Linked DNA regions of Homo sapiens. The protein of the gene in region 5 purifies or fractionates together with the protein of the main gene of each other region. This does not show direct contact. Each region holds a gene or a part of one and is shown on either strand. Other genes may lie near its edges.

Evidence for each region.
Region 1: the proteins of ADD1 (region 5) and TMOD1 purify together in Homo sapiens (affinity purification with mass spectrometry; one large-scale study listed by BioGRID and IntAct). This does not show direct contact.
Region 2: the proteins of ADD1 (region 5) and SVIL purify together in Homo sapiens (affinity purification with mass spectrometry; one large-scale study listed by BioGRID and IntAct). This does not show direct contact.
Region 3: the proteins of ADD1 (region 5) and INF2 purify together in Homo sapiens (affinity purification with mass spectrometry; one large-scale study listed by BioGRID and IntAct). This does not show direct contact.
Region 4: the proteins of ADD1 (region 5) and NUBP1 fractionate together in Homo sapiens (co-fractionation; one large-scale study listed by BioGRID). This does not show direct contact.
Region 6: the proteins of ADD1 (region 5) and PLCB3 fractionate together in Homo sapiens (co-fractionation; one large-scale study listed by BioGRID). This does not show direct contact.
Region 7: the proteins of ADD1 (region 5) and NSUN2 fractionate together in Homo sapiens (co-fractionation; one large-scale study listed by BioGRID). This does not show direct contact.

Annotation. Positions count from the first base shown.
Region 1 is NC_000009.12:97,543,166-97,546,665, reverse strand, and holds part of TMOD1 (tropomodulin-1), read right to left. Parts: intron 482-3,500; coding exon 325-481; intron 1-324. UniProt on the Homo sapiens protein: Blocks the elongation and depolymerization of the actin filaments at the pointed end. The Tmod/TM complex contributes to the formation of the short actin protofilament, which in turn defines the geometry of the membrane skeleton.
Region 2 is NC_000010.11:29,456,972-29,460,471, forward strand, and holds the end of SVIL (supervillin), read right to left. Parts: intron 1,619-3,500; coding exon 1,463-1,618; exon of another isoform or gene 1,363-1,462; coding exon 1,276-1,362; 3' UTR 367-1,275; downstream 1-366.
Region 3 is NC_000014.9:104,703,118-104,706,617, reverse strand, and holds part of INF2 (inverted formin-2), read right to left. Parts: coding exon 3,398-3,500; intron 3,324-3,397; coding exon 3,164-3,323; intron 2,703-3,163; coding exon 2,669-2,702; coding exon of another isoform or gene 2,665-2,668; exon of another isoform or gene 1,809-2,664; intron 584-1,808; coding exon 442-583; intron 1-441.
Region 4 is NC_000016.10:10,757,342-10,760,841, reverse strand, and holds part of NUBP1 (cytosolic Fe-S cluster assembly factor NUBP1), read right to left. Parts: exon of another isoform or gene 2,970-3,500; coding exon 2,815-2,969; exon of another isoform or gene 2,565-2,814; intron 1-2,564. UniProt on the Homo sapiens protein: Component of the cytosolic iron-sulfur (Fe/S) protein assembly (CIA) machinery. Required for maturation of extramitochondrial Fe-S proteins.
Region 5 is NC_000004.12:2,846,844-2,850,343, reverse strand, and holds part of ADD1 (alpha-adducin), read right to left. Parts: intron 1-3,500. UniProt on the Homo sapiens protein: Membrane-cytoskeleton-associated protein that promotes the assembly of the spectrin-actin network. Binds to calmodulin.
Region 6 is NC_000011.10:64,258,030-64,261,529, reverse strand, and holds part of PLCB3 (1-phosphatidylinositol 4,5-bisphosphate phosphodiesterase beta-3), read right to left. Parts: intron 3,058-3,500; coding exon 2,817-3,057; intron 2,646-2,816; coding exon 2,561-2,645; intron 2,473-2,560; coding exon 2,286-2,472; intron 1,502-2,285; coding exon 1,296-1,501; intron 131-1,295; coding exon 34-130; intron 1-33. UniProt on the Homo sapiens protein: Catalyzes the production of the second messenger molecules diacylglycerol (DAG) and inositol 1,4,5-trisphosphate (IP3).
Region 7 is NC_000005.10:6,626,545-6,630,044, reverse strand, and holds part of NSUN2 (RNA cytosine C(5)-methyltransferase NSUN2), read left to right. Parts: intron 1-3,500. UniProt on the Homo sapiens protein: RNA cytosine C(5)-methyltransferase that methylates cytosine to 5-methylcytosine (m5C) in various RNAs, such as tRNAs, mRNAs and some long non-coding RNAs (lncRNAs).

The DNA.
Region 1 (3,500 bases), on a different chromosome or scaffold from region 5:
ACAGTTTCTTCTTTTACTCTCAAAACTGTTTAGGTTTGCGTAAAAAAATAATCAGGACATCCTAGTGAAAGAGGGTTTAGGGAAAAGTTTTGCTGATTTGAGTGGATAGGAGTCTTTCCTCAGTCTACCCCCAAAACTTCATGAAATCTACATCATCCATAGATGCTTTTGAAGTTGGGTTTGGGTGTTTTGGCCAGGCAGGGATGAGGACAAGGAGGCCCAGTCACATTTGGCCCAACACAGGGCCTGGCAGGGCCTGGCATACAGTCGGCACTCAATGGTGCATGGGGAGTGGCATATTATAACAGTAACATTGTTCAGTACCTCGTTTTTCCCCTGTGTAGGGGACCAGATCTTCTCGGTCCTTAAACTCCTTTGCTTGCTTTTCCAAGTGATCCAAGAGCTCCTCTCTTTTAAAGGGGCCCGTGGGCGCCTTGGTGGTCTGATCCTTCTGCCTCAGGCCTGCAGGCAGCAGTGCATTCTACATTGGAGGTTGTGGGGGGGCAGGAGAGAGAGAAAGAGAGAGAGAGAAAGAGAGAGTGGTCAGCTGCTGAAGACTTGCACTTCTCCAGAAACTCATCATCGAACAGAAGGGACCTCAGAGCTCATGGAATCCATGGTGTTCCTCGTTTTACAAGTAAGGAATCTGAAACCCCAGGACAGGGAGGGACTTGTCCAAGGTCAAAGGCAGACAAGGGGCAGAGAGAGGCTAGGACTCAGGTCTCAATCCTCCAGCCCATCCCTGCCTCTAACATTTTTGAAGGAGAGGAGGTGAGGGGTCAAGGCAGCCGACTCCAGTCTGAGCACAGAGGGCACTGAAAGAGCATCTGCTGAGTGATGAATATGATTGAGTTGTTGTTTGGATGCATAAAGATATTCACAGGAGTTGAGTTGAGTATCAGGTGGCTCCGGAGAGAGAAGAAGCCAAAAGAGGGTTAAGCTGGGGCCCTGGATGGAGAATCAGGCAGGAAGAGGCAGACCAAAAAAAAAGCTGGAGAAAGGCCCAGGAAAGCAGCGAGGTGAGCAGTGCCCTGCAGAGCTAAGAGGAGGACGGGGCATGCTCTCTGGCCACAGTCCCTGCTGGCCCTACCCGCTGCCTTCTAACCTCCTGACGGGTCTGTGCTCACAACACACTGGTGGTTAAATATTTTGAACGTCGCCCCTGGAGATGGGTATCTCAAGAAACATAACATCAACCAATTGTTCCCTTCTCTTCTTCAAACATAAGCAGGCTTCTAGGTGTGGGCTTACTGCTAAAGCAGATTCCTATTGGGGGGATTGGAGTTATCCTCATGGGCTTCACTTTAACTCAGCCCCCAGTACCTTAGGGAGTCAAAGAAGTTTATAGCTGCAAGGATGCTTAGAGATCATCAGTGCACACACTCTCCCATTAGGGGAACTGAGGCACAGAGCAAGGAAAGATTTGCCCAAGGAATTTCAGGACAGATCTAGAACAAAAACCAGCGTTCTTCTTCAGATTTACGAGAGGAGGATGACCATTTCTAATCGTTGTGTGCTCCCTGTTCCCTGCATTTGCAGAGCTAGAGGAATACATGGGTGGCTGGTATGGGCAGAACATCACCCAAAAGATATGCACCCTCAAACTGACTAAACTGAAGAGTCATTCCACCTCCAACCTTTTTTTTTTTTTTTTTGAGATGGACTCTCGCTCTGTTGCACCCAGGCTGGAATGCAGTGGCGCAATCTCGGCTCACTGCAACCTCTGCCTCCCAGGTTCAAGCGATTCTCCTGCCTCAGCCTCCTGAGTGGCTGGGATTACAGGTGCCTGACACCACGCCCGGCTAATTTTTTGTATTTTTAATAGAGACAGTGTTTCACCATATTGGCCAGGCTGATCTCGAACTCCCAAACTCAAGTGATCTGCCTGCCTTGGCCTCCCAAAGTGCTGGGATTACCGTTCCCAGCCCCACTTTCAATCTTTGTACCATTAAAATGCATATCTTCAGTCACTGTCACAAACTCCATATCCTTTTCTGAAAGCTGCCTCTGTGAGGGGACTGTTATCAGGGATATGAAGATCACTGTATGCCTGGCACATAGAGGGATACAGCTTGGGAGGGAATACTACTGTTTAAGGAATCTTTTTAATTTTTTTTACTTTTTTTTTTTGAGACAGAGTCTTTCTCTGTCACCAAGGCTGGAGTGCAGTGGTGTGATCTCGGCTCAATGCAACCTCCACCTCCCGGGTTCAAGCAATTCTTCTGCCTCAGCCTCCCGAGTAGCTGGGACTACAGGCGCATGCCACCACACCTGGCTAATTTTTGTATTTTTAGTAAAGACAGGGTTTCACCATATTGGCTAGGCTGGTCTTGAACTCCTGACCTCATGATCCACCCACCTCGGCCTTCCTAAGCCCTGGGATTACAGGCATGAACCACCACATCTGGCCTAACTAATGCATCATTTTTTAAAAGGTGTACTATGCATAACACCACAGTGCTGTTTCAGTAAGAGTAGTGGCTGTAAGATCAGGAGACCGGGGTGTGATCCTGCCTCTGGGAGGGCTGTAAGTGAGCAGGGCCCACCCAGCACAGAGCCCGGACAGACAGATAATGGGCTTGGCAGGTGGTGCTGGTGTACTTGCAGAGAGATTTAGGCCACAGATCAAAAGAGACACTGGGAGTTGGAGCTTTTTATGAGAGGACAGTAGGTAGAAAATCAAGGCCTGACTGACTTTGGGGTGGGGGGCATCAGGAACATAAGTGATGCTCCACACATCCCACTTTTCCTTAAGCAGCAGTTCTCAGATATTGTCCACCATGATAGGCAGGACAGGTGATGCTCCCAGGTGAGCCATGCTTCTGTGGGCATGTCCCAGGTTTGATGGGACTTCCTGTAGCTAGCTGTGTGTGCCCACGCCTTCTCTTCCACAGCAGGGAGCTTATGGTGATGCAAGAGAGTGAGACAATACCTCACTGCCCTGCAAACATCAATGTGTGACTACCCATAATGAATAATCCAAAGTCTTTGTGACATGCCTGCACTTCACAGTTGACCCTACATCAGGCTTAAGCCCTGACTTGGAGTAATAATGATACAACTACACAATCTTGGGCAAGTCCCCTAAATCTCATTGTGCCTCAGTTTCCATGGCTGTAAAATGTGAATAATGAGAGTTGCTCTCTCATAGAGTGGTTGAGAAAATTAAACTAGATAATGCAGAAAATGTGCTCAGCACAGTGCCTAACATAGTAAACGGTCAAAAATTATTACTTATGATCCCTTCTATTGTTATATAATCAGGTAGAATATATGTTAATAGGAGATTGGTTACCCAAATATGTATGTTTAACAGGGAATGTATTATCCAAATATAAATTCAAAAAACTAAAACACACAATTATAAAATGAATTAAGCAGTGAAAGCAAGTGCTCATGCTTCTTAAGGATCCCCACAGGGAAGGCCTACAGATTTTCATTACCATAAAGGGTTTTAATGGCAGTAAGATGCTGGGGCATGTTCTGGCCCCAGAAAGGCT
Region 2 (3,500 bases), on a different chromosome or scaffold from region 5:
CCTGGTCTCAGGTGATCCGCCTGCCTCAGCCTCCCAGAGTGCCGGGATTACAGGTGTGGGCCACCTCGCCTGGCCCATACAATTTTTTAAAGGGCATTGAGATCCTAAAATTGAAATTGTAGATAGATATAGCTGTGGGATAAAGAACTTCTGCTGAATGATGATTTGCAAAAGTATGTCTTCATTATAGTACTGAGTACTAATTTTATGGGGCAAATAACTCTGTATTTAATCTTATGACCTTGTATAAAATCTTGCCCTAAACTAAATTCAAATGTATAGTCATTTATACTTAATTACAAAATTTGGTGCTATGTTAATATTTACCAAAAAAAAAAAAAATTCCAGAAAGGAACATGCTTGGAATTCAATGTGAACCAGTTAATTGTTGTGTTTATTCTGATACTTTTATTTGGGAGTCCTATATCACAAAATGACATGTGTACTGTTTACAACCGGTATTAGAAATTGAGATGTTTTTATTTTGACTATTTGAGAGTAAAATTGTAGATAATGTTCCAAACCATCATCAAAAATGCAGAGCAAACTTTTCTGTATATAAACTGTACATAAAAACAAGGCACTATACATTTTTGGGGAGATATTAAGGTAGAAAGGTTGATTCGCATAGATTCTCCAGAGTCCATGCCATTAAGTACAAATTCTTTGTTCATTTTAGCACCGGAAGCAGTACTCAGAACAAGTCATACCTAATGCTGCAGGAAACATTTCCAAACGTGTATGAAGATACATATTGGTGGCAGAGCTAATTCAACAGAAGCAACTCCATCTACCTTTTCATGTTATTTTGACACCAAAACAAATCTTGAAAGTGAATGAATACATATTGCTTTGTTAAATACATATTTGACTTATATGGTGTTTATATAAATATATATATATTTTAGAATCCACAAACTATCAAAATAACACTTTATAAAGAGAACTGCTTCAAAAAAAAAAAAAAAAGGCATTGCCTAGCTGGAACAAGAAGGCAGTGCTATCTATAGCAGCTGCGGCTTAAGTGCACATAACAGATACTTTTATTAATTCTGATAACCTCCTGAATGGTGGAAAGAAGTTTCCAAACAGTTCCCTTGAACATTTACAAAATACACAACTCCGGGACAAGCAGTATCTTTAACAATGTCAGGTTCTGAAAACTCTGATTGAAAAATACTTTGTGAAAAACACCAGTCCAAAAATATATATCCATTTCCCTGGTGCAGTGGTGTTGTTGGACGTGACCGTGAGGCTCCTCTGGCGTCTCCCCACTCAGAACAGGCCTTTTGCTTTCTTCAGGTTCACCTGCTTCCAGGCGGGCAGGGCGTTGTATTCATCCCTCGTCATGTCTAGTGCAAACTGGAAACATTGGGAGAAGCGCCCCGCGGCTCAGTGAAAGGAGCCGGGCGTGCGTGTGTTGTTTTACTCCCATCCCCACCCCACCGGAAGAACCGCTTACCTCGAAGTCTTCGTCGGTGAGATAGATCTCAAGCTTCAGAGGATCGACCCCCTCCGGGAGTGGCCTGGCCAGGAGGTCGGCCAGCGGGTAAATGGTTTTACAGAGCTTGGCTAAGACGTCTTCCACGAGGGTGATCTGATTGGAAACTTCCGTGTCCTAGAGAAGAGGAGGGGGCAGAGAGGAGAGCTCGTGTCCTACATTTGAACTTGTTTTATTAAGTGCTTACAGACACACAGCCCTGTGCCACCTGCATACTGCCTGAGGATGCATAGTTCCATATCACTGAGGAGGAAATGGCTCTGAAAGAAAAGGGATCGCCCAAAGCCCTGCAGTTGTCTGGACTTTTAATTTTTAAAATTTTTAAATTTTAAATTAAAAAATGGTATTTTTTGAGACAAGGTCTCACTCTGCTACTCAGGCTGGAGTGCAGTGGTGCAATCATAGCTCACTGCAGCCTCCAGCTCCTGGGCTCAAGTGATCCTCCTGCCTCAGCCTCCTGAGTAACTGGGACTATGAGTATGCATCACCAGGCCTGGCTAATTTATTTTTCCTTTTCCATTTTTTTTTTTTTTTTTGTAGAGACTGGGTCTTGCTATACTGCTTAGGCTGGTCTCAAACTTCTGGCCTCAAGCGATCCTCCTGCTGGGATTACAGGTGTGAACCACCACACTTGACCCCAAATTTTGTTATTTTTTAGAGACAGTGTCTCACTGTAACCCAGGCTGGAGGGCAGTGGCTCAATCATAGCTCTCTGCAGCCTTAAACTCCTGGACTCAAGCAGTCCTCCCACCTCAAGCCTCCTGAGTAGCTGGCACTATTGGCATGTGCCACCACGCGCACCTAATAATTTAAAAAATTTTTTTGTAGAGATGATGGAGTCTTGTTTCTCTGACTTATAGATCTTTTCTCACCTTGTCACAGAGTTTTAAACAAACCCTGTCTCAGAACTGTCTCTGGAAAAATGTTTAGGGACTGTCCCATGAGTGAATTATGGACTAAGATTAGTAGATTTGAAGTCTAAACACCAGAAGCCTCCAAATAATGGAATTTGTTTAAAAATAAATATTAAAAAATAACCTGAAAAGAAATCACACCCCCCTTCCCTCCCCTGGCCCCATTTCTTAATCTGCAATAGAAAAAGAAGGTCAGAAAATGCACCTAGAATATTCTGGAGCAGAATCAATTTTTTTGTTTTTAAAACCACTGTGTGAATATGAACAAACTATTCTGGGTAAATTCTCTTCCTCCATTAAACTTGGGACCCCAGATTGGCTGCTCTCCTTTTGGGTGGGTGGATGGTGGGAATGCATGACTAAGAGCTGTTGCTCATATTAGAAATACATGGAACAGACTGGTGGTCAAGAGGCAGGTTTTGGGCTGGGTGCAGTGACTTGTGCCTGTAATCTCAACACTGTAGGAGGCTGAGGTGGGAAGAGTCCTTGAATCCAGGAGTTGGAGACCAGCTTGGGCAATATGATGAGACCCTGTCTCTATAAAGAATACAAAAATAGGCTAGGCATGGAAGTGTGCACCTGTAGTCCTACCTACTTGGGGTGGCTGAGGTGGTAGGGTCGTTTGAGCCCAGGGGTTCAAGGTTTGTGTGAGCCATGATTGAGTCACCACACTGCAGCCTGGGTGACAAAGCAAGATCCTTTCTCTAAAAAAAGAAGAGGCGAATTTTGGATGATCTTGCCTGCGTCTGAGTACTGACTCCTCCACTCACTGAAAGTCACTTTGGCCAAGTGACTTCGTGTTTTTGTGTCTCTGCTCCCACACCAGTAAAATGGGAATAATAATAAGATATCTTGATGGACTGTTGTGATAAATGAGAAAATCAGTGTAAAGTGCTTGGAGATGTGCCTAGTGCAGAGTGGGCACTTGCTGAATGTTAATTATTTGTATAACTTGCTGGTGTGGGAAGCCTGACTCTTCTCCGGCTGGAATCCCACAGGCCTGCACAACAGTAAATGGCCCCGCTGCTAACCCCCAAGATCTATAGTGAATACACAGGGAGGATGGTGAGTTATATCCTTCTGAA
Region 3 (3,500 bases), on a different chromosome or scaffold from region 5:
ACTGCCCCCAGATGAGAGCTGCAAGGTTCAGGGAATGAGGGGAAGGCCTGAGCTTGACGAGAATTCAGCCTCTTAGCCCCTCACCAAGCCCTGAGGCCTCTGAAGCCCACCTGATGGGGACTGGGCAGCTGGGGCCCAGGACAGTAAGGCCGGCTGTGGGCCGCACTGGTCTTTGGAGCCCCGTCCTTCTGGGTCCTGTGGCCCTGGCTTTGCCCCCAGGGCCCAGCCCGGCCCCCAGGCTGCCCGCTCTAGGCGCCACCTCCCTTTCCAACCCCTGGGTCCTTGCTGCTCCCTGGAGTCTCACCCCAAAGCTGGCACCATGGCCCAGGTCACAGCAGGGTCTGACCAGGGCAGGGAGGACCGTTCCAGGCCCAGCCTCTGGACCTCAGGGCCACAGCCTGCCCTGGAGGGCTGCCCTCCGCCCTGCAGCCCCCAGCCCACCTTGTGGAACAGGGAGGCAAAGACCTCCTGGTGGCTGCTCATGTCGACCCCGCCAGAGACTCGCAGCAGCTCCTCCTCGTCCTCGGCCTTAGCCTCCTCGAAAGCCTCCAGCTGGATCAGCAGGTCGGCATCCTCCAGGTCTCTGTGCAGGAGGGGCCAGGTGGGCTAAGCCTGCTGCTGCCACCACCAACACGCAGGCGGGGCAGCCTGGGTCAGCGCCAGTGTACCAGCCCCGCTCAGCCCACCTGGGACTCTGAGCCAGGCCATAGCCAGCTGTGGCTGACATGTGACCCACATAGCCAGGGATAGCGACCTAAGAGTGGCAGCTCCCAGGTCAGTGCCTTGCGCCCTGCCAGGCTGCCCCCGGGTCACCAGGCACCCGCACGCCCCTGGGGAAGGGGAAGGGCGAGTATGCCCACTCCCATCGAGTAACGTGCACCAAGGCCTGGGGAGGTGGCACACAATGGAACCGGGCCGTGACCTTGGGGGAGGGAAGGCCCTCCCCTGGGCGCTGCGTGACTACAGTGAAGACCACACCTGAGGTGGGTCCACAGGGCTGCATGGATACAGGAGGGGCGGGGCTCTGGCCTGAGCAGGAGGAAACTTAGTGTTCACTGGGCCTAGGACTTGCCAGTCATCTCAGTCTGGTCAATGAGCACAGCCCTCCGCAGGCAGGGCCGGCCCCCTTCAGCCCACACTGGTGGGGCACAGGCACCCATGTGGGCAAACTTTGCTGAGGCCATTTCTGTTTTTTTTTTTTGAGATGGAGTCTCGCTCTGTCACCCATGCTGGAGTGCAGTGGTACGATCTCAGCTCACTACAACTTCTACCTCCTGGGATCCAATGATTGTCCTGCCTCAGCCTCCTGAGTAGTTGGGATTGCAGGCACATGCCACCACGGCCAGCTAATTTTTGTACTTTTAGTAGAGATGGGGTTTCACCATGTTGGCCAAGCTGGTCTCGAACTCCTGACCTCAGGTGATCTGCCCATCTTGGCCTCCCAAAGTGCTGGAATTACAGGCGTGAGCCACCGCGCCTGGCCCCTGAGGCCATTTCAACACCAGGCATTCTAGCCCTGGGCTCCTCCAAGCTGATTTCCCTGGGTGTAAGGACACCCCCCTGAGTACAGTCCTGACTGAGGCCTGGATAGAGCTTCTCAGCTATGTGGGTTCCCAGCAGGGCTGCAAGATTTAGCAAATGAAACTACAGAGTACCTGTTCAATTTGAATTTCAGACAAACAATGAATAACTTTTGGCATAAGTATATCCCATGCAACATCTGGGATATACTTACACCAAAATATCGTCTGTTGTGTATCTGAAACCTGAATGAACTGCATGTCCCATACAGTACCTGGCAACCCTAGTTTCTTTTTTAAAAAATTTTTATTTTAGACTCGGGGGTACATGTGCGTGTTTGCCACATGGTACACTGTGTAACGTAGGCGATTTGCCTTCTAGGGCAGTGGTCCCCAGCCTTTTTGGCACCAGGGACTGGTTTTGTGGAAGACAATTTTTCCATAGACTGGGGTGACGGGAATGGTTTAGGGATAAAACTGTTCCACCCCCGATCATCAGGCATTAGATTGTCATGAGGAGCGCGCAGCCTGGATCCCTTGCGCGCGTGCGTGCGCTGGAGAATCTAATGCAGTGCTGATCTGACATGAGGTGCAGCTCAGGCAGGAATGCCCGCCCACCGCTCACTTCCTGCTGCGTGGCCCGGTTCCAATAGGCCAGGTACCGGTCCGCAGCCTGGCGGTTGGGGACCCTTGTTCTAGTGGGCCTGACACCAAGTAGCGACGAACACTGTACCCTGTAGGTAGTTTTTCAACTCTCGCCCTGGAGCCCGTGTCCCTGTCTCCATCTTGCGTCCACGTGAACCACCCTGTAGTTCCCTCTTATTGGCATTTCATTTTCTGTTTCTGGGTTGGTTCACTTAGGATCACGGCCTCCAGCTCCATCCACGGTGTGCAAAGGATATGAGCTCATTCTGTCCTTTCTATGGCTGCTGCAACCCTAGTTTCTGTGGGCAGCTGCCAGGGACAGTGAGCTGGATTCTAGCCTGAGACCTGGCTTCTGGCTGGACCCCTGGGGTTACTCCGAGGGAGCCACCTCCCTGCCATCTGGAGGTGCTGCTTAGGTGAGGTGGCTGGGAGCCAAAGGGCAGGTGGGCCTGGCCTTGGGAGCAGGAGGGGGAGCCGGCAGGACCGCTACAGTGGGGACTCACCGCAGGCGAGCCAGGACGTCCAGCAGCTGCAGCCCTGGGAAGGGACGGACAGGGTCAGAGGGTTCGGAGGCCACTCCCCGCCTTCCCCATTTCACTTCTGCCACCCAGAGCACCTGACCCTGCCCTGCTGCACTCATGGGACACCAGAGACCTGAGGCTCTGGAGGGGAGACATCATGCTGGACACACAGTGATGCTTACTCAGGGCTCACTGCCAGAACTGGCAGGGCTAGAACGAGGTCTCAGGCCCCCTGTCCGGCTCCACTGCCTGGCCAGTCTCACAAATGAGAACGGTCCAGGGTTGACCCCCAGGCGTTCTGAGGCCTGTGTCCATTGAAGGGGCAGGTGGTGGCAGGCCCGAGATGGCGCCTTCCTCTGGGGCCCTGGGTCGGGGGCAGCTTTTGTGGCGCTCCCACCTCCCCAGGTGGATGCAGCATGGGATGCACTGGCCAAGAGGCGGGCAGGAGCGGGCATGCGGCCCAGGGCAGGTGCTTACCGATAAACTCGTTCCGCAGCTGGGTGCGCGCGCGCAGGTCCTCGGGGCCCAAGATGACGGCGTTGATCACGCTAAGCAGGGTGACCACGTAGGGCACGTTGTCGCTGCCGGAGAGCTCGTTCATGACAATGCTGAAGCGGTACTGCTGGCTGCACACCGTCTGTGGGGAGGGCGGGGTCAGGGCACACCCAGGCAGGGAGCCCCATGTGCCCAGGCCCAGGCCCTGCCGCCCACCTTGTAGTGGTCCAGGGCGTCCAGGGTCAGCACGTGGCCCTCGGGAGAGTAGATGCACAGGGCAGCCAGTAGCTCAAACACCTGCTTCTTCACCATCACGTTG
Region 4 (3,500 bases), on a different chromosome or scaffold from region 5:
TATTTAGTACCTACTAGTGCTAAGCCCTGTTTGTTCGAGGTGCTATTTACTTCCCACACAGCCAAATAGCAAGAAATCAACCTAAAAGAAAATGACTTTTTTTTTTAGAGACAGGATCTCACTGCTGCCCAGTCTGGAGTGCAGTGGCATAATCATTGCTCACTGCAGCCTTGACCTCCTGGGCTCAGGCAATCCTCCTGCCTCAGCCTCCAGAGTAGCTGGGACTACAGGCATGTGCTACTCTGCCTGGCTAACTTTTTAATTTTTTATAGAGATGGTTGTTGCCCAGACTGGTCTTAAGCTTCTGGTGTGAAGTGATCCTCCTGCCTCGGCCTCCCAGAGTGTTAGGGTTAGAGGCGTGAGCCACTGTGCCTATCTGAAAATGACCTTTTAACGCATCTACATGCTCCATGTCCCTATACTATACTATATTAAGCCAGTGTGTGCACTGTTTTCTAGACCAGAGCTTGGCAAACCCCAGCCTGGGGGCTGAATCTGGCTGGTTTTATAAATAAAGTTCCTCCGGAACCAGCCATGCCCGTCCCTCTAGGCACCGTCTGTGGCTGCTTCATGCCACAGTGGCACGGCTAAGGGGCTGGGACAGGGACCGTGGGGTCCGCAACGCCTACTTCCTATCTGGCCCTTTACAGAAAAGTTTGCCAATCCCTGCTCTAGATAATTATAAACACAAACAACTGACTAAAAGGAAATAAGGAATACTGCCCAATGTGGACAACTTTGCATTTCCTTCTCAACTCTGAGTTTTTCCAATGTGATTACTGTGTATAAACACCGCTCAGTAGCTCCCTATTTTCCTCAGTTAATGTTATCACAGATCCCTGTACCCAAGTCCTGCTGTGGCTTGTCACTGTCAGGTGTAGTGACTCCTTAGCACCTGGAGCTTCACCACTCACGTGAGCCCGAAAGGCTCGCAGCTTTGGGCCTGTTCTTTTCCTGAGATGCCTGTTTGGCTCTTGACACTGAGGCTGGGATGCGGAGGAAGGGGCGCTCAGCTAGAAAGTCAATGGGCTGCGACTCAGTCTCTCATTTCTTTCTTTCTTTTTTTGAGACAGAGTCTTGCTCTGTCGCCCAGGCTGGAGTGCAGTGGCGCGATCTCGGCTCACTGCAACCTCTGTCTCCTGGATTCAAGCACTTCTCCCACCTCAGCCTCCCAAGTAGCTGGGATTACAGGTGCCCACCACCACGCCTGGCTAATTTTTGTATTTTTTTGGTAGAGACAGGGTTTTGCCATATTGGCCAGTCTGGTCTCGAACTCCTGACCTCAAGTAATCTGCCTGCCTCGGCCTCCCAAAGTGCTGGGATTACAGACATGAGCCAGTGTGCCCAGCACCAACCACTTTTTAAAAATGGGACAGAAAACATTCCTAAGGACAAATACACTTTCTCTCCACTGCCATCACCCGGGCCAGGCCATCCTCCCTCCTGTCCAGGGTCCCAGCTGGTGTCCTGCTCCTCCTTGCGTCCCCATGTCCCCTCTCTGCAGGATGCCAGGGTGGACATGAATCTTGCACCATTTTCTGACCCGGACACCCTTCCCATGGCCGCTGGGCCTGCCACTCCATTGGCTGTACCCTCATCCCTGTGTCCAGCACCTGTGTTCCTCAGGGAGCCACAGGGGCCACCAGGGAGAGCCAGGCCTTTTTACTGCCCTGGTGCCCGGCATGTCAGAGTCAGAGCTCAGTGAGTGCTGGATGAGGTGAGACTATGGGTCGTCCTGACTGATTCTGGCCAGTGAGATCAAATCAAACCTCCTTTGCTGGGCTTTCTTAAGTGTGGAGGAGAACGTCATGAAGAGAAGTCAGGCGTAACTGTGGAGATGGAGAAGAGCCCTCAGTTTCTCAGGCCCCTGAGATGGATAGCACCATGGTCCTGCCTGCAGTTGCTCTCTGCAGGACTTACAGAGAGGAAACTTCCTATCGCTCTCCTCTCAGCTCGGGCTCACCATGGGCCTTGGAGTACAGCCACTAGGTGACTGCTACAGAGGGTTGCTGGGTGTCACTACGGAAGAAGCGAAGGCACCCAGTGGCTTATCCCGAAATCCCTATCTGCACCCAGCTGGTTCTGTTGAAAACTGGAGAGATTTCCTAAATCATCCTGGGATGTAAACGGAAAATCCACTGTAGGCTGGGGGACCTGACACATGGACACGGCAAGGCTGACGGGGCCAGGCAGCACAGTATGAATTATAACTGCACTGGTGGTTTCCCTAGTTTCCTCAAGGAAAGTTCAAAAAGCATTCTTGACCCACTATTGTTTAATCCATGGACTAAAAAAAAACCAAATCGTTGAATGGTTGTCAGCTGCAAATGTCTAGACCAAAGATGAAGTTTTTCTTATTTTTATCTTTTGGGACAAGGCCTCACTCGCTTGCGCTGGCTGGACTGCACTGGCGTGATCATGGCTCACTGCAACCTCCTTTCCCCAGGCTCAAATGATCCTCCTACCTCAGCCTCCCAAGTAGCTGGAACTACAGGCGCGAGCCACCATGCCTGGCTAATTTTAAAATATTTTTTGTAGAGATGGGGTTTTGCTATGTTTTTCAGGCTGGTCCCGAACTCGTGGGCTCAAGTGATCCTCCCATCTCAGCCTCCCAAAGTCCTGGGATTACAGGTGTGAATCACTGTGCTGGCTGAAGTTTTTAACACGAGGTTTCTGCAGACCCACATCAGATGCAGCTGCGGAACACACACTGGGAAGAGCCTTGGTGAGACCAGAGTATCAGAGCCAGGTAGGAAAGAAATCTCACAGTGTGGAGCACAGTTTGGACCCAGCTCCAGCTGGCAGCTCGCTCACCTGGGGAGTGGTGATGATCACTGCTCCATCGATGTGTGCTGTGGCCAGGTACCGGACGACCGAGAGGTGTTCATCCGACGTCCCAGGTGGGGTGTCCACAATGAGGTAGTCGACCTCTCCCCAGTCCACATCTCGGAGGAACTGCTTGATCATGCCTAGAAAGAGGAATCCACAGGGGATGCTTACTTTTCCTTTCTTTTCTGTACTTTCAACTCCCTCTTTTTTTTTTAAAGGATGGGGTCTTGCTATGTTGCCCAGGTTGGCTCTTAACTCTGAGGCTCAAGCAATCCTCCCACCTCAGCCTCCCAAGTAACTAGGACTATAAGTGCGTGCCACTGTGCCCAGCTCACGGAGAAGCATGATCTGATCTTTTTGTGCCTTTGGTCTATGCTGTAAGTCAGTGGCTCTCAACTGGGAGTGAATTGCAATGTCTGGAGACATTTTGGGTTGTCACAAATAGAGTAGGGGGTGCTACTGGCATCTTGTGGGTAAAGGCCAGGGACACTGTTTAACACCCTATGGTGTAGAACACGGTCTACTCCTCCCCCCAACAAAGACTTATCTGGCTCAAAATATCAATAGTGCTGAGGCTAAAGCTTGCCCTGATAACACTTTCACATTATTACCTTAAGTCTCAGTACCAGATCAACCTCCTGTTGATCTCACCTCTCTGACCCAAATAAGCC
Region 5 (3,500 bases):
GTGAGCCAAGATCGCACCACTGCACTCCAGCCTGGGCAAGAGAGTGAGATTCAGTCTCACAAAAAACAAAAAACAAAAAGATTTGCCTATTGAAGACATTTCACATAAGTAAAATCATGAAGCACATGGTCTCTTGTGTCTGGCTTCTTCCACTTAGCATGTTTTCAGAGTTCATCCATGTTGTACCAGGTATGAGTGCTTCAATCCTTTCTATTGCCAACTACTATTCCATCGTATGAACAGACCACATTTTGTTGATCCACTCATTAGCTGATGGACATCTGGGGTGTTTCACTTTTTGTCTGTTAAACATAATGCTGCTCTGAACATTCACACACAAGCTTTTGTACGGACATATGTTTTCACTTGGCCTTTGCATTCTCAAAGTGTTTTCACAACATTCTCTCTTTCATGTATTACATGGCTACTTAATTTTCCGATGGAGAAAAGTGAGGCTTGGGGCAGCTAAGTGACTTTCTCACCCACTCAACTACCCTCAGCAAACCACAGTAAACCCATAGTGAAGAGCCAGTACTCCTTTCATAATACCACACTGCCTATGGTTACGGCTCCCTCTCCTGTGAAATAAATTTCAAGCGACAGTGTGCAGATGAGGGAAAACATTTTTTAGGTAAGGAACTCCCTAAATCATTCTCAATACGTTAATCCACAAAGCAAATTTAAATTAAGCCCTTCAGAGTAAGAGAAGGAGAGAAGTGTTTGGGATGGGATATTCTAAAGGTCCCTCCCAAATGATGACTTTCTCCTCCCCATGCAAACAGCCACAGCTGCCATTCCAGGCTGCAGAGGCACACATGTAGTTACATCTACTGCGCCCCATTCCTGAGGCATGCCCTTTCCAGCAAATTTGAGATATACCTGTGGACTCTGTCCCCTAACGTCAGCCCCAGATGCCAGACTCCCTGGGCCCAAGGCCTAGATGCAGAGCTCGTCTGTTCTAATACAGATAACAGTATTTTGGAGGCATATATTGCTCAGATCAATTGTATGAACCCTCTTTCCCAACCTCATGAAGCACTGTCTAGGTTTATAATATTTCTGGTAATAAAGTTCAGAAAAAAACAATAATTATATTAATAATATAAGTCATTTGCTGACAGCTTAGTAGGTACCTTTTGGCATTTACTTCATTTAATCCTCACAATAACCATGTAAGATAGGGACTATTGTTACTTTAGTGTCCATACTTAATTATGTGGAGAAAATACACAGTTGGTAGGAGTATAAACCAACGTAACTTCTTAGGAGGATAATCTGGAAACATCTACGGAAAGTAAAAGTGTAATTACTCTTTGACATGGCAATCTCACTTCTGAGAATGTATCTATAGATATACTTCATAGGTGCCCAAAGATGGAAATGTAAGAATATTAATTGGGGCCAGGAGGGTAATTTGGAAATGTCTATGCAAATGAAAAGTGCAATTATTCTTTGACATAGCAATTTCATTTCTGAGAATGTATTTATAGATGTACCTCATAAGTGCCCAATATGGAGATGTAATATTAATTGGAGCACTGCTTATAACAGTAAAAACCTGGAAACAGGTCAGGTGCAGTGACTCATGCCTGTTATCCTAGCATATTCAGAGGCTGAGACAGGAGGATCACTTGAGACCAGGAATTCAAGACCAGCCTGAGCAACACAGCTCAGGCTTTTGAAACCTTATCTCAAAAAAAAAAAAAAATTAGCCAAGCCTGTTGGCATGAACCTGCAGTCTTAGCTACTTCAGAGTCAGAGGTGGGAGAATGGCTTAAGCCCAGGAGTTCAAGGCTGCGGCAAACTATGATCACATCACTATATTCCCGCCTAGGTGACAGAGCAAGAGTCTGTCTCAAAAAAAATAAATTAATTAAATAAATATATGCTCAACATGTTTAAGCTGACAGTTATCAAAAACAGTGTTACACATTAGTTATAACAACTGTTTAAAAAGGTACTTCTAGAAAAATTAAGCTCAAAAGGCAAACTGTATTAAATGTGCTTCCCCTCATTCCTTTAAACTCAAGGTTCCTCAATGTAGAAAGGCCAGAATAAGCATTAACAATTAAACAACTCTATTAAAGTTTAATATTATGCTATGTTAAGATTCCTATTTTTTTTTTTTTTTGAGACGGAGTCTCACTCTGTCCCAGGCTGGAATGCAATGGCACGATCTCAACTCACTGTAACCTCCGCCTCCTGGGTTCAAGTGATTCTCCCGCCTCAGCCTCTTGAGTACCTGGGATTACAGGCATCCACCACCAAGCCTGACTAATTTTTGTATTTTTAGTAGAGACAGGGTTTCATCATGCTGGCCAGGCTGGCCTCGAACTCCTGATCTCAGGTGATCCACCTGCCTCGGCCTCCCAAAGTGCTGGGATTACAGACGTGAGCCACCATGCCCAGCCTTGCCTCCCACTCTATTCAAAGTCATCCCTTTGCTCACTGAGATAGATGCATATCTGGTTGCCTCCTTAGGAAAGGCTTATCAGAAACTCAAAAGAAGGCAACCATTTGTCTCTCACCTACTTGTGACCTGGAAGCTCCCTCCCTGCTTCAAGCTGTCCCCGCCGTTCTGGACTGAACCAATGTACTTCTAGCATATATTGATTGATGTCTCATGTCTCCTTAAAATGTATAAAACCAAGCTGTGCCCAACCACCTTGGGCACATGTCAATCAGGACTTCTGGAGGCTGTGTCACAGGCACACATTCTCAACACTAGCAAAATAAACTTTCTAAGTTAACCGAGACCTGTCTCAAATTTTCGAGGTTCACGTGTTCATCTTGTTCTGAGACTGAAATGTGTACGGTGTGGGTTGAAACAGTGAGCAAGTAGAACCAAAATGTTTGGCTTAGAAGAAAAGTAGATACAGGTATATAAAAATGAGAAGGTTGAGTAGAATCCTAGTCTTACTTCCTTTTTTTTTTTGAGACGGAGTTTCGCTTTTGTTGCCCAGAATGGAGTGCAATGGCACTGCGACCTCCGCCTCCTGGGTTCAAGCGATTCTCCTGCCTCAGCCTCCCTAGTAGTGGGGATTACAGGCATGCACCACCATGCCCAGCTAATTTTTGTATTTTTAGTAGAGATGAGGTTTCACTGTTGTCCAGGCTGGTCTCAAACTCCTGACCTCAGGCGATCCACCTGCCTCAGCCTCCCAAAGTGCCGGGATTGTGAGCGACCGCACCTAGCTTGTTTTTTGTTTTTGTTTTTGTTTTTTTGAGACGGAGTCTCGCTCCGTGTCGCCCAGGCTACAGTGCAACGGAGCGATCTCCACTCACTGCAAGCTCCGCCTCCCGGGTTCACGCCATTCTCCTGCCTCAGCCTCCCGAGTAGCTGGGACTACAGGCATCCGCCACCACGCCCAGCTAATTTTTTGCGTTTTTAGTAGAGACGGGATTTCACCATGTTAGCCAGGATGGTCTCGATCTCCTGACCTCATGATCCGCCCGCCTCGGCCTCCCAAAGTGCTGGGATTACAGGTGTGAGCCACCAC
Region 6 (3,500 bases), on a different chromosome or scaffold from region 5:
AAGCTCCCATGCCTGCCACCCACCCCCACTCACTTCGAGCAGCCTCAAAGGACTTGAACTTGACAGGTTCGATGTAGTTGACAAGCGTGGACATCTCCTCAGTGGCATTCACCTCGCTGCTGGCTGTGCCCTGTGGGCCCCAACCCAGGGTCAGCAGTGCCATTCCCGCCACAGCTGGCCATTCCCTCACCTGCCCCCCATGAAGGAGGTGCTGACCCTCTTCCCAGCACTATATACACACTGCTGGTGGTGCCGACAGTCTTCTCCCCGGGGTCTCACTGATGCGCCCTGGACACCACCCAGCTCAAGCAATTTTCCTGCCTCAGCCTCCCAAGTAGCTGGGATTACAGGCGCCCGCCACCTTGCCCGGCTAATTTATGTATTTTTAGTAGAGATGGGGTTTCACCATGTTGGCCAGGCTGGTCTGGAACCTCCCAACCTCAGGTGACTCGCCCACCTCAGCCTCCCAAAGTGCTGGGATTACAGGCATGAGCCACCTCGCCTGGCCCATATAGGTGTTATAATTATCATTACTTTTACTGAATCATTTGGGAGTAAATTATAGACATCATGACCCTTTACCCATAAATACTTCAGCATATATGGACATTCTCTTCTATAACTCCAATACAATAATTAAATTCAGGAAACAAAACATTAACATATTATCTAATATGTAGTCCATCTTTAAATTTCACTAATTGCTCCAGTAATTGTCTTTATAGCAATGATGTCTTTTTTTTTTTTTTTTTTTTTTGAGATAGTGTCTCCCTTTTTAGCCCACGTTGGAGTGCAATGGTGCAATCTCAGCTCACTGCAACCTCCACCTCCCAGGTTCAAGGGATTCTCATGCCTCAGCCTCCCGAGTAGCTGGGATCACAGGTGTGAGCCACCACGCCCAGCTCAGACTGATTTTTTCTGTACCATTCCTCACAGCTACTCAATGCTCCCCATGACAATGCTCCCCGCTCCTGCACCCCCTGGCCCTGCCCCAGGACCTTTGTACATGCTGTCCCCCTTCCTGAGGTCTCCCTGCCCCACCTCCCTGCCCAGGGTAGACTCCCTATCCTCTGCCAGTTCTGTACCCTAACTCGCACCTCCCAGGCCACATCACCAGCAGAACTGTATGCTTGTTTCCATGCCTGATGACTGAAGAGCCCTCCTCCCACCTTCACTCACACCCACACTGAGCCCCAGGAGGCAGGGGTGATGTCAGTCTTGTTGATGGTCAGACCCAGCCCCCTGGGAGGTAAATAGATGCTACCTCCCCGACCTGCCCACCCTGTGGGCCTGACCTCATCTGTAGTTGGCTTTTTGGGGTCTGTCTGTTCCTCCTCTTCCTCATCTTCCTCCTCATCCTCACGGTCAGCAGGTCCAAGAACATAGGGGCCTCGGTTCAGGCCCTCGTCACCCAGAGACTTCTGAGGCTCCAGGCTGGGCTTCTCAAGCCCTACCTCCTCCCCATTGCTCAGGCCTGGGCAGCTGTCAGAGCTGGGAGACCCTGCAGAGGACAGGGCCACAGGGTGAGGGGTCAGGACCACACAGCTGCTTAGGAAGTCTGGAGGGGTTTTTCCCAGTGTGTGCCGAGGTGACTCAGTGGGGAATTCAAGGGGTACTCTCAGGGCAGTGTGGCTTGGGGAGAGGCCAAGAGGTCGAGGTCAGATGGTATTAACCCAGTATGGGTTGAGAGGGGTCATAGGTCAAAGGTAAAGGTCTGCAGTGATATTCAGCAGGGAGGCAGATAGGGTGGTTCAGTGGGGTGAGAAGTCAGGAAGTAGCATACCACAGCCCTAATAGCGGGGTAAGGGATGACATAGAGAGGTTACAGGTCAGGGGTAAGTCAGAGCCATGTCTAAGGAGGGGGCATAGTGAGGTGAACAGTCAGGGGTGAGAGGTCAGAGGTCAGCTGAAATGATAACCAACTGGGCAGGTGAACTCAATGCGGGCTTAGGGGTCTGAGGTCACACCCAGTGTGGGATGTGGTTTACTGAGGTCAGAGGTCAGCCTTCAGAGCCATCACCGGGTTGTGGGAAGGCTCTGAGAGGTGAGAGGCTGAGGTTGGGAGTCAGGAGTTGGGGTGCAGCTGGGTGAGACGTGCACCTGAGGTCAGGGGTCAGAGGCCCCACACCAGCCGACAGGTGGTGAGGAGACAGGCCGGTTGTGGGAACAGGCGCACAGCGAGGCAGGAGGGTGGGCTGGGGGTCTGGGATGAAGTGTCACGGCGCCTGGAGCATGAGGCCAGAGGCTAGGGTCAAGTCAGGGTGGCGGGCCGGGCTGGGGCCTACCCAGCTGCGGGGAGGAGGGCTCGGTGGCCGCGGAGCTCTCGCTCAGGGCAGAATTGCTCTGCTCCAGGGGCCGCTTGCGCCCGGCGCTGTCTGGGCCACCTGCGCTGGGTCGGTGCCGCTTCTTGTTCTTCACCAGGATACGGCCCATCAGGTCCTGGGGGCTGGGCAGGGGAACGCCTGGGGCCAGCTGGGCAGGCATGGACGAGTCAGGGCCCTGGACCGGGTCCGCAGCACCCTGGCCCCCATGCCACCCCCCTCGCTCCGAGCTCCCGTACCGGGTACTTGTCCAGAGGCTCGATGAGTAGCGCGTCTCCAAAGATGGAGCGGCAGTACTCAGCCATCTTTGCCTGTTGCTTTGCCCTGCGGAACCGAGGTCAGAGGTCAGAGATCCCTCCCCCAGAGAGGAAGCTGAGGTCTACGGGACATGTCAGTGGCCGTTCGCAGGGTTGGAGGTCCCTGAGCAGTCCAACAGCACTGAAGCTGGAAGACTGTCCCCCGGTCCATGGGGTTTCATGCCAGGGGCTCACTCACGAGTCCACATGGTTCTCGAAGGAGAGGATGACGGGGTAGGGCGAGGTCTTGAAGGCAGTCTCGGCAATGGCCTCCAGCACGTCGCGCAGAGGCACCTCTGTGGTCATGGTGAAGCCGTGGGTAATGAAGGGTTCCTCCTCAGGCGGCCGTCCCTTCCACACGTCCAGCTCCACGCAGCGGCAGCCCCATAGTAGTGCCTGGCGGTACATCTCCACCGACGAGGTCCCAGCCAGCTGCCCCGCTGGGGCGGCGAGGCTCTGTCACCGAGGCCGCCCACCAGCCCAGCTCCTCACCACCCCGGCCCCACCTGGAACCAGGACATGCTGGATTTGCAGAGGGCTCTCCATCTCTCAGATGGATACCCACCACCTGTCCATCCCACCAGCGTGAGCTGGGGGGAGTCATCCCTGAGACTCACTATAGCTCCCCACTGCCTCAACAATCCCTCCCTCTCCTCACTCCCTCCACCCACCTCAGCCCTGGCACAGCTCACACCACCTCCTGTGTGGAAGACTCCAGCCCTCCCTGCCTCCAATCCAATCTCTTTTTTTTTTTTTTTTGAGACGGAACCTCGCTCTGTCACCCAGGCTGGAGTGCAGTGGCACAACCTCGGTTCACTGCAACCTCCGCCTCCCTGGTTCAAGCGATTCTCCTGCCTCAGCCTCCCGAGTAGCTGGGATTACA
Region 7 (3,500 bases), on a different chromosome or scaffold from region 5:
TGTTGTACTTGAAGTAGAGGTCTGATACTGTAGTAGTCCATTTTCACACTGTTATAAGGACATACCTGAGTAATGTATAGATAAAGGAAATAGGCTTAATTGACTCACATTTCCACATCGCCGGGGAGGCCTCAGGAAGCTTAAAATCATGGCGGAAGATCTCTCTGCACAGGGTGGCAGGAGAGAGAATGAGTGCTGAGCAAAGGAAGAAGCCCCTAATAAACCATCAGATCTCCCCCTGAGAACGAACTCACTGTTGTGAGAACAACATGAGGGAAACGGCCCGGGGATTTAATTATCTCCACCTCGTCCTGCCCTTGACACGTGGGGAATATTACAATTCAAGGTGAAATTGGGGTGGGAACACAGAGCCAAACCATCTAAAATATTTTAAGAAGACAGGATTACGATTCTCCTCGGGCATGTTTGTATTTTTAGCAGTGATGCATGTATGTGCTGCTTCACACAATCACCTGGAAACATTTGTTTCTAAAACCTTGTGTTTAGAAGCGCAGAGACGGGATAAGAAATGCTTTTAAGATGAAGAAGTTCCTGTCCAGGAGGAACGTTTCAGCATGTGTCTATAGGGAAGAGGTGTGCTCTTAAGGCACCTCCATGTGGGCATTTTCTTCTGCAGGCTCCAACAAACTAGGAGAAACCATACGATGTCAATAAGGCTTGCTAGTTTTTTATTATTCTCTGCAAACTACAGTTACACTTGGATTTGATCAGCCCTTTTAACATTTCATAGCTGCTTTTCCACCTTGTTTAACAATGTGTCTGGGTATATGACAAGGTAATTACCAAACTCTTAGAATCTGCAGGTTGTCTGTAGTTGAAGAATGAAGGTGAATTGCTCTCTGCCAACAGCCAGCTATGTTTTTGTTTGCTTTAATTTTCTGAACACACAGCTGAAGGGTATGAACAAAACATTGTAGATCTGGGTTTCTAATATTTGGCTTTTTCCATTATCAATGATGGTTTCTCTATATTTTATTTTGAGACAGGGTCTCACTCTGTCACCCAGGCTGGAGTGCAGTGATGTCATGACGGTTCACTGCAGCCTTGACCTCCTAGGCTCAAGTGATCCTCCCACCTCAGCCTCCTGAGTAGCTCGGACTACAGGTGCATGCCACCACGCCTGGCTAATTTTTTTTATTTTTTTGTAGAGATGGAGTTTCACCTTGTTGCCCAGGCTGGTCTTGCATTCCAGGGCTCAAGCAATCTTCCTGCCTTGGTTTCCCAAAGTGCTGGGATTACAGACATGAGCCACCATTCCTGGCCAATGCCAGTTTCTTGGCAGCTGTATTCTCTAAACATTTATTTATTCAAATTCATCTGTCAGTTTTAGGGTACTAAATCTCTCAGCAAGCAAGTAAAGCAGAAGCTTTCCAGGACTTCTGGTAATTTTCTGTATTGCTCAAGATGCAGGAATAGATCATGTAATATTCTTCCCAATCCTCTGGTACATAGTGAAATATAATTTAGGAAAACGTTTTTTGAAATTACATTTTCTAGAAGGAAAGTTATGTATAGGACCATAGCTTGGGCCAGTTTCATTTTTTTCTTACTTTCCATAGACTCAGAACAATGAGAAATTATCCTAAAGCATTCTTATAGAAGCATTGTTTTGACAACCAATTGTTCAGAGTGCACCTTATTATCATTCTATTTATGTGCTGTTTACTTATATTTTTTTTTGAGACAAGGTCTCTGTTGCCCAGGTTGGAGTGCAGTGGCATGATCTCAGCTCACTGCAACCTCCACCTCCTGGGCTCAGGTGATCCTCCCACCTCAGCGTCCCAGGTAGCTGGGATTACATGCCCCCATCACCATACCCAGCTATTTTTTCTATTTTTTGTACAGTTGGGGTTTTGCCATGTTGGACAGGCTAGTCTTGAACTCCTGACCTCAAGTGATCCGCCCACCTTGGTCTCCCAAAGTGCTGGTGTTACAGGCATGAGCCACTGCACCTCGCCTGTTACGTGCTTTTTAATGTCTAGATTGAGGATGGTTTGTCATAGATGTTGTATATATTTACAGAGTCCTTACCACTTGAGAATTTTTAATATGCAAAGATGACAGTGGTCCTTTTAACTTATCCTCTAAAAAGCCCAAATAGGATTTTTTCTTAAAAGACACAAGCTAAATTTGAAGTAAGTAACTAAAAATTAAATATACCTCTCATTTTGTTTGATGTTAAAATCTACAAAGATTTAATAAACATTTTTTGGTTCATAAAAAGATGATGCTGTTCCTAAAGCTGTATAAGAAACATAATTTAAAAACATTTCTTGTAGAAACAGGGCCTCGCTTTGTTGCCCAGGCTGTTCTCTGTACCCAGAGGAAATAAACATTTATCTGTTAGTTTCTGTTTGTATTTAAATATTTCAGAGTTCCTAAATGTTTCTTTACATGAGATCAACAGCCTTCACAATTATAAATACTGTAGAATTTTAATCTTGTAATAGTACGTTTACATTTTGACTATCAGAAATTTGACGAAAAAGACATATAAGGCTATATTTGTTCAAAGTATATCTAGACTGCTTATCTATATTTGAAAATGAAAATTCAGCTCTTTACAATAAGTCTAAATGGCATGTGGTGTTCATATTGATGTCTTAGTGATTTGGTAAGGCAATAACTTACATGATCGTACTAGCTTTGAGACAGACAAGTTCAGGAAGACCAGATACTATATGAGCTGGCATTTGGCTGTTTGCAAGTAGAGGTTACAGTGGCACAGCAGATATTTGCCCAATACTATAGCAAATGCCAAATTTGCATGTAACCTACTATTTCGCCTCTAATGAGTCCAAAAGATTATTTAAAACAATTCTTTTTAAAATTGCCTTATGAATATGATTTTCTTTTGGCTTTATATTTTTGAACACATTAAATGTCGAGGAGGGAACTGGGCTATATGAGATAGAATCAAAGCGCTGGGGACCTTTGGAGGGTGGCCGTGGACAGATTCAGCCAGTTTCGTCTTCATTATTTGGTAGAAAATGCTTTTCAGGTATATTTTGTAATATTTTGACTTGAGCAGTGTCGGGCTTTTAAGTCCTGAGTTTGTTTCCATCAAAAAATCAGAGTTTAAAAGCAGTCAAATGTGTTTGTGTTTTCCAGACATTCCAGTTTTATTTTCATGGTTTTCACTCTAGCTACAATTTGACGCATGGAAACATTGTGAGCCTGCATTGTTAAATTGAGTGTATTACTGCATCTCAGGTTTAGTGAGAATTGCTGAAACTACACTAAGATTTATGGCCGTGTGACGTGGTACACTTGGTTTGGCATTGGATTGAGCATGGTGCTGCATGACATCAGTGTGCTCATTTGTACGGTGCAGATGCCTGTATAGGTGCAGGCCAAGTTTCAAAGCACATCCTGGGTGGGGTACAGTGGCTCATGCCTGTAATCCCAACACTTTGGGAGACTGATGCGGCCGGATCACTCGAGGCCAGGAGTTCGAGACCAAGCTGGCCAACACGGCA